Homo sapiens: one gene and its partners. The protein of the gene in region 1 interacts with the protein of each later gene in a biochemical or structural test. Each region holds a gene or a part of one and is shown in the gene's direction. Other genes may lie near its edges.

What was found.
Region 2: of the proteins of URI1 (region 1) and RPS6KB1, one has a biochemical effect on the other in vitro, tested with the Homo sapiens proteins (one study listed by BioGRID).
Region 3: the proteins of URI1 (region 1) and ATF7 form a complex in vitro, tested with the Homo sapiens proteins (one large-scale study listed by BioGRID).

Annotation. Positions count from the first base shown.
Region 1 is NC_000019.10:29,980,107-29,983,759, forward strand, and holds part of URI1 (unconventional prefoldin RPB5 interactor 1), read left to right. Parts: intron 1-52; exon of another isoform or gene 53-144; intron 145-3,653. UniProt on the Homo sapiens protein: Involved in gene transcription regulation. Acts as a transcriptional repressor in concert with the corepressor UXT to regulate androgen receptor (AR) transcription.
Region 2 is NC_000017.11:59,899,470-59,903,122, forward strand, and holds part of RPS6KB1 (ribosomal protein S6 kinase beta-1), read left to right. Parts: intron 1-3,653. UniProt on the Homo sapiens protein: Serine/threonine-protein kinase that acts downstream of mTOR signaling in response to growth factors and nutrients to promote cell proliferation, cell growth and cell cycle progression.
Region 3 is NC_000012.12:53,532,256-53,535,908, reverse strand, and holds part of ATF7 (cyclic AMP-dependent transcription factor ATF-7), read left to right. Parts: intron 1-316; exon of another isoform or gene 317-543; intron 544-1,249; coding exon 1,250-1,407; intron 1,408-2,649; coding exon 2,650-2,749; intron 2,750-3,285; coding exon 3,286-3,399; intron 3,400-3,653. Other genes in the region: ATF7-NPFF readthrough protein, read left to right, coding at 1,250-1,407, 2,650-2,749, 3,286-3,399. UniProt on the Homo sapiens protein: Stress-responsive chromatin regulator that plays a role in various biological processes including innate immunological memory, adipocyte differentiation or telomerase regulation.

The DNA of each region.
Region 1 (3,653 bases):
CTATATAGAATCCATGCCCAAACTTAATATTCCTCTATTTTCTTGATTTTAGAGGTGAAAAGCCAGGCATCCTTCAAGCTAGTGGATCTTTGACAAAGATGCATTGCAAAACAATCAACAAACAATCAGAAAGGCATGCTATGTGTGAGTGATGATCCCTGCAGCATATGCCATAGGCTTGTTGTAGAGGAGCTGCTCAGTAAATGGTGGATTCAATTGAAACAAGTCTTTTTTGGATGCTTAATGGGAAGTTGTAGGGTGGGTATGATGGACTAAAAATTATTTCTAAAGAAGGTTATATATTGTATATATTCCAGAATCTTCCGTTTTTATCGTTTCTTAAATTAAAAAATAAAAATTTAACTCTGTCCCAGGTTAACTCAGATGTTAACACTTATATAGAAATTTTTTTCCTCTTTCCCCGTTAGGCATCTCACAGTATTTTCTGCTTGTCTGTTTAGGATGTTAGGTAGAGGAAAAGAGAGTGATAGAAGATTTTTTTTCTTAAAAAAAAAAAAAAAAAAAAAAAAAAACTGGGCCAGGCATGGTGGCTCACACCTGTAATCCCAGCACTCTGGGAGGCCGAAGCGGGTAGATCACAAGGTCAGGGTTCGAGACCAGCCTGACCAACATGGTGAAACCCCGTCTCTACTAAAAATACAAAAATTAGCCGGGTGCGGTGGCGCGTGCCTATAATCTCAGCTACTCAGGAGGCTGAGGCAGGAGAATCGCTTGAACCTGGGAGGTGGAGGTTGCAGTGAGCCGAGATCACGCCACGGCACTCCAGGCTGGGTGAAAGAGTGAGACTCCATCTCCAAAAAAAAAAAAAAAAAAAAAAGTTCAATGTTAGTATTTGCTGTCTATTTTAACTTCTTACTTTAAAGTAAAATTAGCAAAGTCTTATTGTTTCAACCTGATTTAAATTTTATCTCCCTTTTTTATTATTTAAAGGTTGGAGTCTTTATCACTGGCCTCAAAGGATGTAGACTTTTTTTTTTTAATAGAGATTTTTATTTTTGTCAGTCACTTTTAAGAGGATTAAAAATGTTGATCCCTTTCATATTTCCTCGTCCCTTTAAAAATATTCTATTATGACAAATTTCAAACATATGGAAGAGTGAATCTTGATCACCTATCTGTCTGTACCCTAATCCGTTAATCCATTTTTTTCTGATGAATTTCAAATTAAGTTGTGGACATCTGTGTATTTCACCCCTAAATACTTGAGCATATCCCTCATTTAACTTGATTTCTCTCTTACTTTCTACAATTTTATGCAAATGAGCTGTTTCCCATAGGTTCTGTCTTGATCTTAATCCTTTAAGGGTAAGGGCTAACTTGTGGTTGTGTTAATGGTCTTCATCGCTGCTGCCTATTTTTTTTTTTTAATTTCCTTAAAACAAAAGGTACTCTCAAAAGGCATATTGCACATGATTAGCAAGATTCAGAAGGAAGTGGTTAAAGTTTCTTACATGCCTTATACCTATGCTTTTAGTTCTTGTTTTGTATAAGGAATGTTGCATGAGGATATTGGAAAAAAATTTAAAATTAAGAGTTGAAGGCGGAACCTGATCTATAAGGATCCATTATGTTGAAGCCAAAGAAGCAGGTCTAGCTATTCTAAGTAAGTAGGCTGGAGAGGTGTTTCTTAACTCTATCTGGGTTTTGTTTTCCATTTGAAGAAAAATTATTTTAAGCAATTACCATTTTTGATTACTGTAATGACTCCTGTGTCCAAAAATTAATTACGTTTCTAATTATTAAAATAGAAAAAAAAATCTGTTCAAATTTTGTTATAAATAAAGACCCCAGACTTAACCTCAGTAATGCATTAGTTCTTAGCATAACTTTTGCATTTTCTGTTGCATAGGCTTTGTGATCTTTAACAGGATTATTTAAGCCTGAAATAATAGAGATACTATTTGGAGATCACTGTTTGACTAAGCCCTGAACATTTCCACGAATGTAGCCTTTAGAGAGAGAGGGTTCCTCAAGCTGTAGTTTCTTCCAGAGACATTGCTTGACTCCTCCTGGCCTCCCTTCATAAAGGATTTCTACATGGGCTGCATTTTAAGTGATCTTCTACTTTTGTATTTTTAGAAAATAATTCAAAATTTATAAATAGCAACTCTAATCTTAAACTGCTCTCCAGTATGTCCGCATTTTTATTCCAGAGAGAATTATTAATAAGTTGAAAACTGATTATATTTGACTTGAAATATTGACATTGATCTCTGGTATTGCCTGTTTTTGAACGTACTGTTCTTTTAATGTACAAAATAGATGTTTTTTGTGAGGAAGTTGTTTTTTTTTCTCCTAAGCATTGTTACCAAAATAAGACTTATTGAATGGTGACTTTAATACTAGCTTCTTAATATTCATAGAAATATTTAGATATCTAGGCTGGTGTATTTAGTCCTTGAGCATTTGCAGAATTACTTATCTGAAACATAAATAAGCTGTTAGTGTTATGTTATTAATAGTGAGTGTTGACTGTCTAGGCACTGTACCAGTCAGTCCTATGGAGACATTCTCCCATTGATTGCTCACACCAGTCCTGTTTCCAAAGCCCCTGAATGGTTACATTCAGCTGTACTGTCTTTCAGCAAGTTATACTATTTGTATCAAATTGGTTAGTGAAATCTTGTAGGTAATAGTCTTTCTTGAAAGTTTTGGAATTGATGTTTTTTGATGCTTCATGAAAAAAATGAGTTTTGAGTTTTGGAACCAAAATAGTAGTTGCTCCATGCTGGGCAGTGTGTTAGACCTTTTATATTTAATTCTGTTGAACCTGTGAGATAAGTATTAGTCCAATTTTGCCATTGAAGTTACTAAGACTAAGGTGAATTTGTGTAAATTGCATGTAGAGCTTGGGATTCACTCTCTGGTCTGACTTCAAAGCCATGTTCTTTCTGGTACATAGCCTTGTGCATGAAGTTTTTTTGCCATTTTATCCATATAAAAATTTTCCAGGAGGAGGATTTTTGCCTTAAACAAAAGAATAAAACATGTTTCGTATTTATTTATAGAAAAGGATTTTTTTTGGGGAAAGTTATAAAGCAGTTGCACACTAGAAAATGAGAAAGCTTTCATGAAGGAATGCAGGTCAGAAGACCTAGCTAGGTTAAACTCATTGCTTACCTCATCTTGATAGAGGAGATCTGGCTTCTTGCTATGTGGTTTTTCCATCTTCCTTCTACTTTGTCTTCTGTAAGAGAAAAATACTGATAAGTGACATTTATTATAGGTTATGTAAAATAATATATATGTGAAATTCCTTAAGATCTTAAGACTGAGCTAATTTTTTTTTATTAATTATGCTACTGTTGCTTCAGGGAACTAAGCAGTAAGCTGAAACCAATTCTGTGATGTTTGTCATTTATATTATCTGGAGAGTTGTTACCTACATTGCAGTTTATCCTGATTTCAATTTGACAATGTCTACATGTTCTTTTAAATTACTTGCTGAGTTGGTGAATTTTTGTTTCTGTTATTTTTAAAAACTGACAACATCCTTCTGCTTAAAAAAAATTCAGTGCTGTAGTTTTGCTTGCAGCCTGTATCTTAGCAGGGAACCCTTTGGAAACCCAGTCTCCAGAGAAAGTTTGACGGGCATCTTGGCATAGGCTGCTGCCTGGTATTACTCAAAAAGA
Region 2 (3,653 bases), on another chromosome or scaffold:
TGGTCCAGTCTTAACTACTCTGTAGTCTTTAATTTAGAATTAAGTAAAACTAACATTAAAGAAAAAACAATTATGTAATACCAGTTTTATCACATCTGGAAGAAGTTAGTCTTTTGTCATAAAAGTGAAGCCATCCTAGGCGATTACGTAGAGCAACAAAGACAAAAAAAACCTTTAACCATGACCACCCCCATATCCCACACATAAAAGAAACTGTATCCAGTTAAAATGGTGAGAATTGGTTTTTTCCCCCTTGATACTGCCCCATCTCTTTGCCTGGGTATAATCATGAAGTGTACATTCCTGGTATTACATGTTATCGTGATTTGGTCACACCATGAGTGAGTTATGACTAAAATTTTGTGTTTTGGGGGCATTTGAACATTTATTCTATAAGAATACTATCAGTTTTTGGCTGGGTATGATAGCTCGTGCCTGTAATCCCAGAACTTTGGGAAGCTAAGGTGGAAGGATCATTTGAGGCCAAGAGTTCGAGACCAACCTGGCCAACAAAACAAGACCCTATCTGTACAAAAAATTAAAAAAATAAATAGTGGGCATAGTAGCACACAGCACACGCCTGGCACTAGTGACTCCAGAGGCTGAGAAGAGATGATCACTGGAGCCCAGGAGTTTGAGGATGCAATGAGCTATTATCCTACTACAGCACTCCAGCCTGGGTGACAGAAACCTAATTGCTAAACACACACACACACACACACACACACACACACACACACACACACACACACACACACACACCCCTATGTGTTTTTGTTGTGTATGTTGGCTGTGTACTGGTAGTTTTGAAGAAAGATATATTCACTTTAATATCTTAACTACTCTAAAGTTTTGACATGATTGCTTAAAGACTTGTAATGTTTTAGAGTCTATTTTCTTTTTCTTTTTTTTTGAGATGGAGTCTCACTCTTGTCATCCAGCCTGGAGTGCAATGGCGCGATCTTGGCTCACTGCAACCTCCACCTCCTGGGTTCAAGCGATTCTCTTTCCTCAGCCTCCTGAGTAGCTAGGATTACAAGTGCCCGCCACCAGGCCTGGCTAATTTTTGTATTTTTAGTAGAGGCGGGGTTTCTCCATGTTGGCCAGGCTGGTCTCGAACTCCCAATCTCAGGTGATCCGCCTGCCTTGGCCCCAAAGTGCTGGGATTACAGGCGTGAGCCACGCGCCTGGCCTGGAGTCTATTTTAAATTAATTAGTATCCTTTCGTGTAAACTGAGAGTTCATAATCAGATTAGATTGATTTTAAAGCTATATATTATAATGTCAGTAACTGAAATTCTGCTGCCAAGTTTTTTGTTGTTTTTTGTTTATACAATTCAGTGACTTTGAGTATATTTACAGAGTTGTGCAGCCATCACCAAAATTAGGTTTTAGAAATTTTTACCACTCGGCCGGGCGCAGTGGCTCAGGCCTGTAATCTCAGTACTTTGGGAGGCCAAGGCAGATGGATCACTTGAAGTTGGGAGTTCAAGACTAGCCTGGCCAACATGGTAAAATCCTGTCTCTACTAATAATACAAAAATACCCAGGCGTGGTGGTGCATGCCTGTAATCCCAGCTACTTGGGAGACTGAGGCAGGAGAATCACTTGAACTTGGGAGGTGGAGTTTCCCATGAGCCGAGATTGCACCACTGCATTCCAGCCTGGGCAACAGAGTGAGACCTTGCATTTTTTTTTGAGACGGAGTCTCGCTCTGTTGCCCAGGCTGGAGTACAGTGGCGCGATCTCGGCTCACTGCAAGCTCCGCCTCCCAGGTTCACGCCATTCTCCTGCCTCAGCCTCCCGAGTAGCTGGGACTACAGGTGCCCGCCACCACGCCCGGCTAATGTTTTGTATTTTTAGTAGAGACGGGGTTTCACCGTGTTAGCCAGGATGGTCTCGATCTCCTGACCTTGCAATCCGCCCGCCTCAGCCTCCTAAAGTGCTGGGATTACAGGCGTGAGCCACCGCGCCTGGCCGAGACTCCATCTTAAAAAAAAAAAAAGGAAATTTTTATCACCCTATAAAGAAATTTTGGGGCTGGGCATGGTGGCTTACGCCTGTAATCCCAGTACTTTGGGAGGCCAAGGCAGATGGAGCGCATGAGCCTAGGAGTTTGAAATCAGCCTGGGCAGCATAACAGCACCCTGTCTCTGAAAAAAAAAAAAAAAAAAAAAGAAAAAAAAAGAAACAGAGTTTTGGCCAATTTAGTTACTTCTGATTCTCACCCTCAGCCCCAGGCAACTAACCTATTTCTCATCTCTATAGATTTGGCTTTTCTAGGCCCAGTGTGGCTCATACCTGTGATCCCAACACTTTGGGAGGCCGAGGCAGGAGGATCACTTGAGACTAGCCTGGGCAACATAGTGAGACCCGTGTCTCTACGAAAAATAGAAAAAAATTATCCGTCTTGGTGGTGTGCGGCTGTAGTCTCAGCTGCTTGGAAGGCTGAGGTTGGAGGATCGCTTGAGTCTCCAAGGTTGAGTTTGCCGTGATCCTGCCACTGCACTTCAACCTGCGCAACAGAATGAGAACCTGTCTCTAAAAAAAAAAAAAAAAAAAGCTTTTTCTGGACATTCCATATAAATGGAATCATATAGTGTATGACCTTTTATATTTGGTGGCTTTCACTTTTTTTTTTTTTTTTTTTTTTGAGATGGAGTCTCACTCTATCACCTAGGCTGGAGTGCAGTGGTGTGATCTCTGCTCACTGCAACCTCTGCCTCCTGGGTTCAAGTAATTTTCCTGCCTCACCCTCCTGAGTAGCTGGGACCACAGGTGTGCGCCACCACACCTGGCTAATTTTTGTATTTTTAGTAGAGATGGGGTTTTGCCATGTTAGCCAGGCTGGTCTCAAACTCCTGACCTCAAGTGATCCGCCTGCCTTGGCCTCTCAAAGTGCTGGGATTACAGGCGTGAGCCACAGCATAAAGTTTTTGAAGATCATTTATGTTGTAACATGTATCAGTACTTCATTTCTTTTTAGGGCCAAATAGTTATTCTGTTTTATGGCTACAGTGCATTTTGTTTATCCATTTACCGGTTGATGTTCATTTGAGTTATTCATTCAGATGTTCAACTGAATTGTGAATAAAGCATTTTTTGTTTCTTTTTTTTTTTTTTTTGGAGATAGGGTCTCACTCCGTTGCCCATGCTGTAGTGCAGTGGCGTGAAAAAGCTCGCTGCAGCTTCACCCTCCTGGGCTGAAGTAATTCTTCTGCCTCAGTCTCTCATGTAGCTGGGACCACAGGCACGTGCCACCATTCCCAGCTAATTTTTTGATTTGTTGCAGAGATGGGGGTCTCGTGATTTTGTCCCGGTTGGTTTTAAACTCCTGGCCTCAAGCAATTCTTCTGCCTCTGCCTCCCAAAGTGTTAGGATTATAGGCATGAGCCACCTCCTCGCCTGGCCTGAATAAACCTTTTAGAAGGCTGGGTGTGGGGGCTCATGCCTATAATCCTAGCACTGTGGGAGGCTGAGGCAGGTGGATCGCTGGAGTCCAGGAATTCCAGACCGGCCTGGGCAACGTGATGAAACCTGTTCTCTACAAAAAATGAGCCGATGCTGGGCATGGTGGCCTGTATTCCCAGCACTTTGGGAGGCCGAGCTGGGTGGATCATGAAGTCAAGAGTTTAAGACCAGTCTGGCCAAGA
Region 3 (3,653 bases), on another chromosome or scaffold:
AGTGCTGCGATTACAGACGTGAGCACCGCACCCAGCCTAAAAGTCATTTTGTTGTTATGACTTTAATGCACATCACTGTATGTTATACTTCAATTAATAAGTGAGAAAGAAAAATTCACATAATTCATAAATTGGACATCTAACAGTTTCGAAAAAATGTCATCCTAGAGAGAAGTGATTTAAAGGAAGTATCTACTAGAAGTCTGATGATTATTCTTTTTAAAGGAAGTACTTTCATGAAGTACTATTTTTAATACATTTATTGAAATATAGTACATGTACAGAAAAGTATATAAATTGTAATTATATCACTTACTGAATTTTCACGAAGTCAGTAGTCTGTATAACCAGCACCTAGATCAAAAACATTTTCTTAGAACCTCAGAAGCCCCCTCATGCTTCCTCCTTCTTTCAATCTACTGCTCTGCCAGTGGTTGTTAATTTTAACATCCACTATGGATAGAGCATCTATATCTCATGTTACTTCCCTCCAAATTTGACTTGATAACTTCTCAAATCTGTCTTCTCATAAACATTACAACCATCCCATCTCCTCCCTTTTCTTTTTTTTTTTTTTTTTGAGGCAGAGTCTCGCTCTGTCGCCAGGCTGGAGTGCAGTGGTGCGATCTCAGCTCACTGCAACCTCCTCCGCCTCTCTCCTCCCTTTTCATCAGCAACAAAGTCCTACAGACTGTCTGGGGATGCTGTCAAGGCCATTTGACCACTGGCAGTCTAAGATCTTAAGAAGTTAACAATGAGAGCAGTTTGTTTTATTACAGTATGATCATTATCCAAACTTCCATAGCCCTTTTTTAAGAGGTGTGTTGGAGATGTTGGGTTGCCTCATTACCATCATTACCAGTATACCTGCCTTTTCCCACTGAAGTTCAGAGGACACTTGGTATCAAGTTTAGAATGAGAGTATCTAGATTGTGAAAAATTATAACAGTCTCTAGAATTTATATGGTACTACAGTGCTGCTTCAGAGATTTCAAGTGATATTCCAACTGTCATCTTATTTATGTAGCCATTGTCTCTGAAAGGGGAGATGACCAAGAGATCTTAATACACCATTCCTCCTGAATGGATGAGTGAGTTATGGGTCCCTGATCCTGATGGAATCAGGTCATGATTTAATGAGTGGCTCTAATGCTCTTTCCAATAAATTTGTACTAGATTTTACCATCTATATATTTCCCTATAAGCACACCTTAAAACATTTTGTGATCTGTTGGTTTCTTTTCTCCAGGAGGTTACCCCAAAGCCTGTTCTGATCTCTACCCCCACACCCACCATTGTACGTCCTGGCTCCCTGCCTCTCCACTTGGGCTATGATCCACTTCATCCAACCCTTCCCTCCCCAACCTCTGTCATCACACAGGCTCCACCATCCAACAGGCAAATGGGGTAAGTACAGAGAGCAGGGAGAAGTAGTGAAGGCTGCATTTCTTTCCATTACATGAAACTATTTGATAAAACTGGGACTGTTTTCCAATACCCAAGGAAAATAAGTCACTGAGATTATCTCTCAAAATAAATTTTTCCCCCATAAACAGAATCTTCTTTACCTTTTTAATAGACAAGCAAATATTTATTTGGAGGTAATACTTTTTGTTTTTTTTGGGTTTTTTTGAGATAGAGGCTCGCTCTGTCGCCCAGGCTGGAGTGCAGTGGTGCAATCTCGGCTCACTGCAAGCTCCGTCTCCCGGGTTCAGGCCATTCTCCTGCCTCAGCCTCCCGAGTAGCTGGGAACACAGGCGCCTGCAACCACGCCCAGCTAATTTTTTGTATTTTTAGTAGAGACGGGGTTTCACCGTGTTAGCCAGGACGATCTCGATCTCCTGACCTCGTGATCCGCCTGCCTCTGCCTCCCAAAGTGCCGGGATTACAGGCGTGAGCCACCGTGCCCAGCCGGGGGTAATACTTTCTTAATTTAAGGGTTTAATACTTCTTTAATCTAAAAAGAGCTCTTAAAACATTAGAAGTTCATTACAGTGTGGAAACCACACCCTGTAGAAGTCTATTGGGGTACTACTGAATGAAACACTGAAACCCATTAAGTCTCCTCAGTCCCAGTTAGGGTTCTTGGTCTTTGCCACCTCTAATTTTATTTGTCTGTTTGTCTTCACTCCTGGCACGGTACCCATGGGTTAAGAGGCTGTTGTCAGGATTCAGATTCTTAGAGCTTATTGTTCTCTGGACCCACTAGGAAAAATAAAAAGGGACAACTTCTTTTTGAGGCAGGGTAGAGCAAGCCATGGAAAGAAACAAGAGAAACATTCAGATTTGGCCATCATGTGACCTAACTCAGCTTTGCAAAATGACGACTTTGATCCAACTTCCCCTTTCCCAAGGCAAGCCAGTGGTAGGAATGTTTAATTGTTCTAAACCCTTTAATAGGATTAGCTTCCTACTATTTGAGTTTGCTTAATTTGCAAAGTATAAAGATTTTGCCATTTTTCTCCATCTATAAGGTAAGTTGAATAGGATTCCCTGCCTTCTCACCTTCATGAGGGTGTCAAGATTTTTACCATGCTGCCCTATACCTTCCCTAACTAGAGAAGACTGGAAAATCTTCTGTAATTATAAGAGGAAGATCCATGGACAAAAGGTCTGTGTTATGAGCATTTCACTTCATGTCTCCTCTAGGTCTCCCACTGGCTCCCTCCCTCTTGTCATGCATCTTGCTAATGGACAGACCATGCCTGTGTTGCCAGGGCCTCCAGTACAGATGCCGTCTGTTATATCGGTGAGCTCTGTAGTTGGGGCAGCCAACCCTACCAACATGGTAATCCTTCCCTTCCACCTGAATGGTCATAAAATACACATGAGCCCCAGGGAAATGTGGGCTCTGATCTATATTAGCTGAGCATGGCAGCCTGCCTAAACTCTTCACTAACCTCTGCCAATCCAGCACTATGGAACACTAGATAAAGACTCATCTGGACAATTGGCTCCTGGTCTAGGAATTGATCTTGCCAGCCCACTGATTAGTTGCTTTCACTTGGCACGTAGCACCTCCCAAATTGCCCAACAATTTCCTCAAGATAACAGCCCCAACCCTTCCCACAGAAATTGCCCCAACACTGAAGGATTAAATTCCCTACTCTGGTGCTCCATGGAGAAAGGTATTTCCCAGGCTGTCCCTGCACGCCCTATGGGCACATTGCACACAACAGGCCCTGATGTGCCAATCTCAAAAGCGCTTCATTTTAGGGAAACTGTTGCCCCACCGATGGTATTATGTTCCCTTCTCTTTTTTTTTTTTTCCTTCTCTCGATCCAGCTGGCCAGACCTGTGTCCATGGTGCCCAACATTCCTGGTATCCCTGGCCCACCAGTTAACAGTAGTGGCTCCATTTCTCCCTCTGGCCACCCTATACCATCAGAAGCCAAGATGGTGAGTACATCCCAGTCTGGGGCAATGTTGGCCTTTCTGAAAGAAGTGGGTGATACCAGCCTAGGTCTTTCAAGTGAGCCAAGCAAAGGAACCTTCTGGGGCTTGCAAAGCTAAGGACTCCCTGCTGTGGGGTCTGGAAAAGAAAAGACTCCAATTCATAGCTCCCATCTCCTCTCCCCACCTTTAGAGCCTGGTACATAGACCATGGCAGTGAAAAGAGGCAGCACAGATTGTTTGGAATGGAACACTTGCCG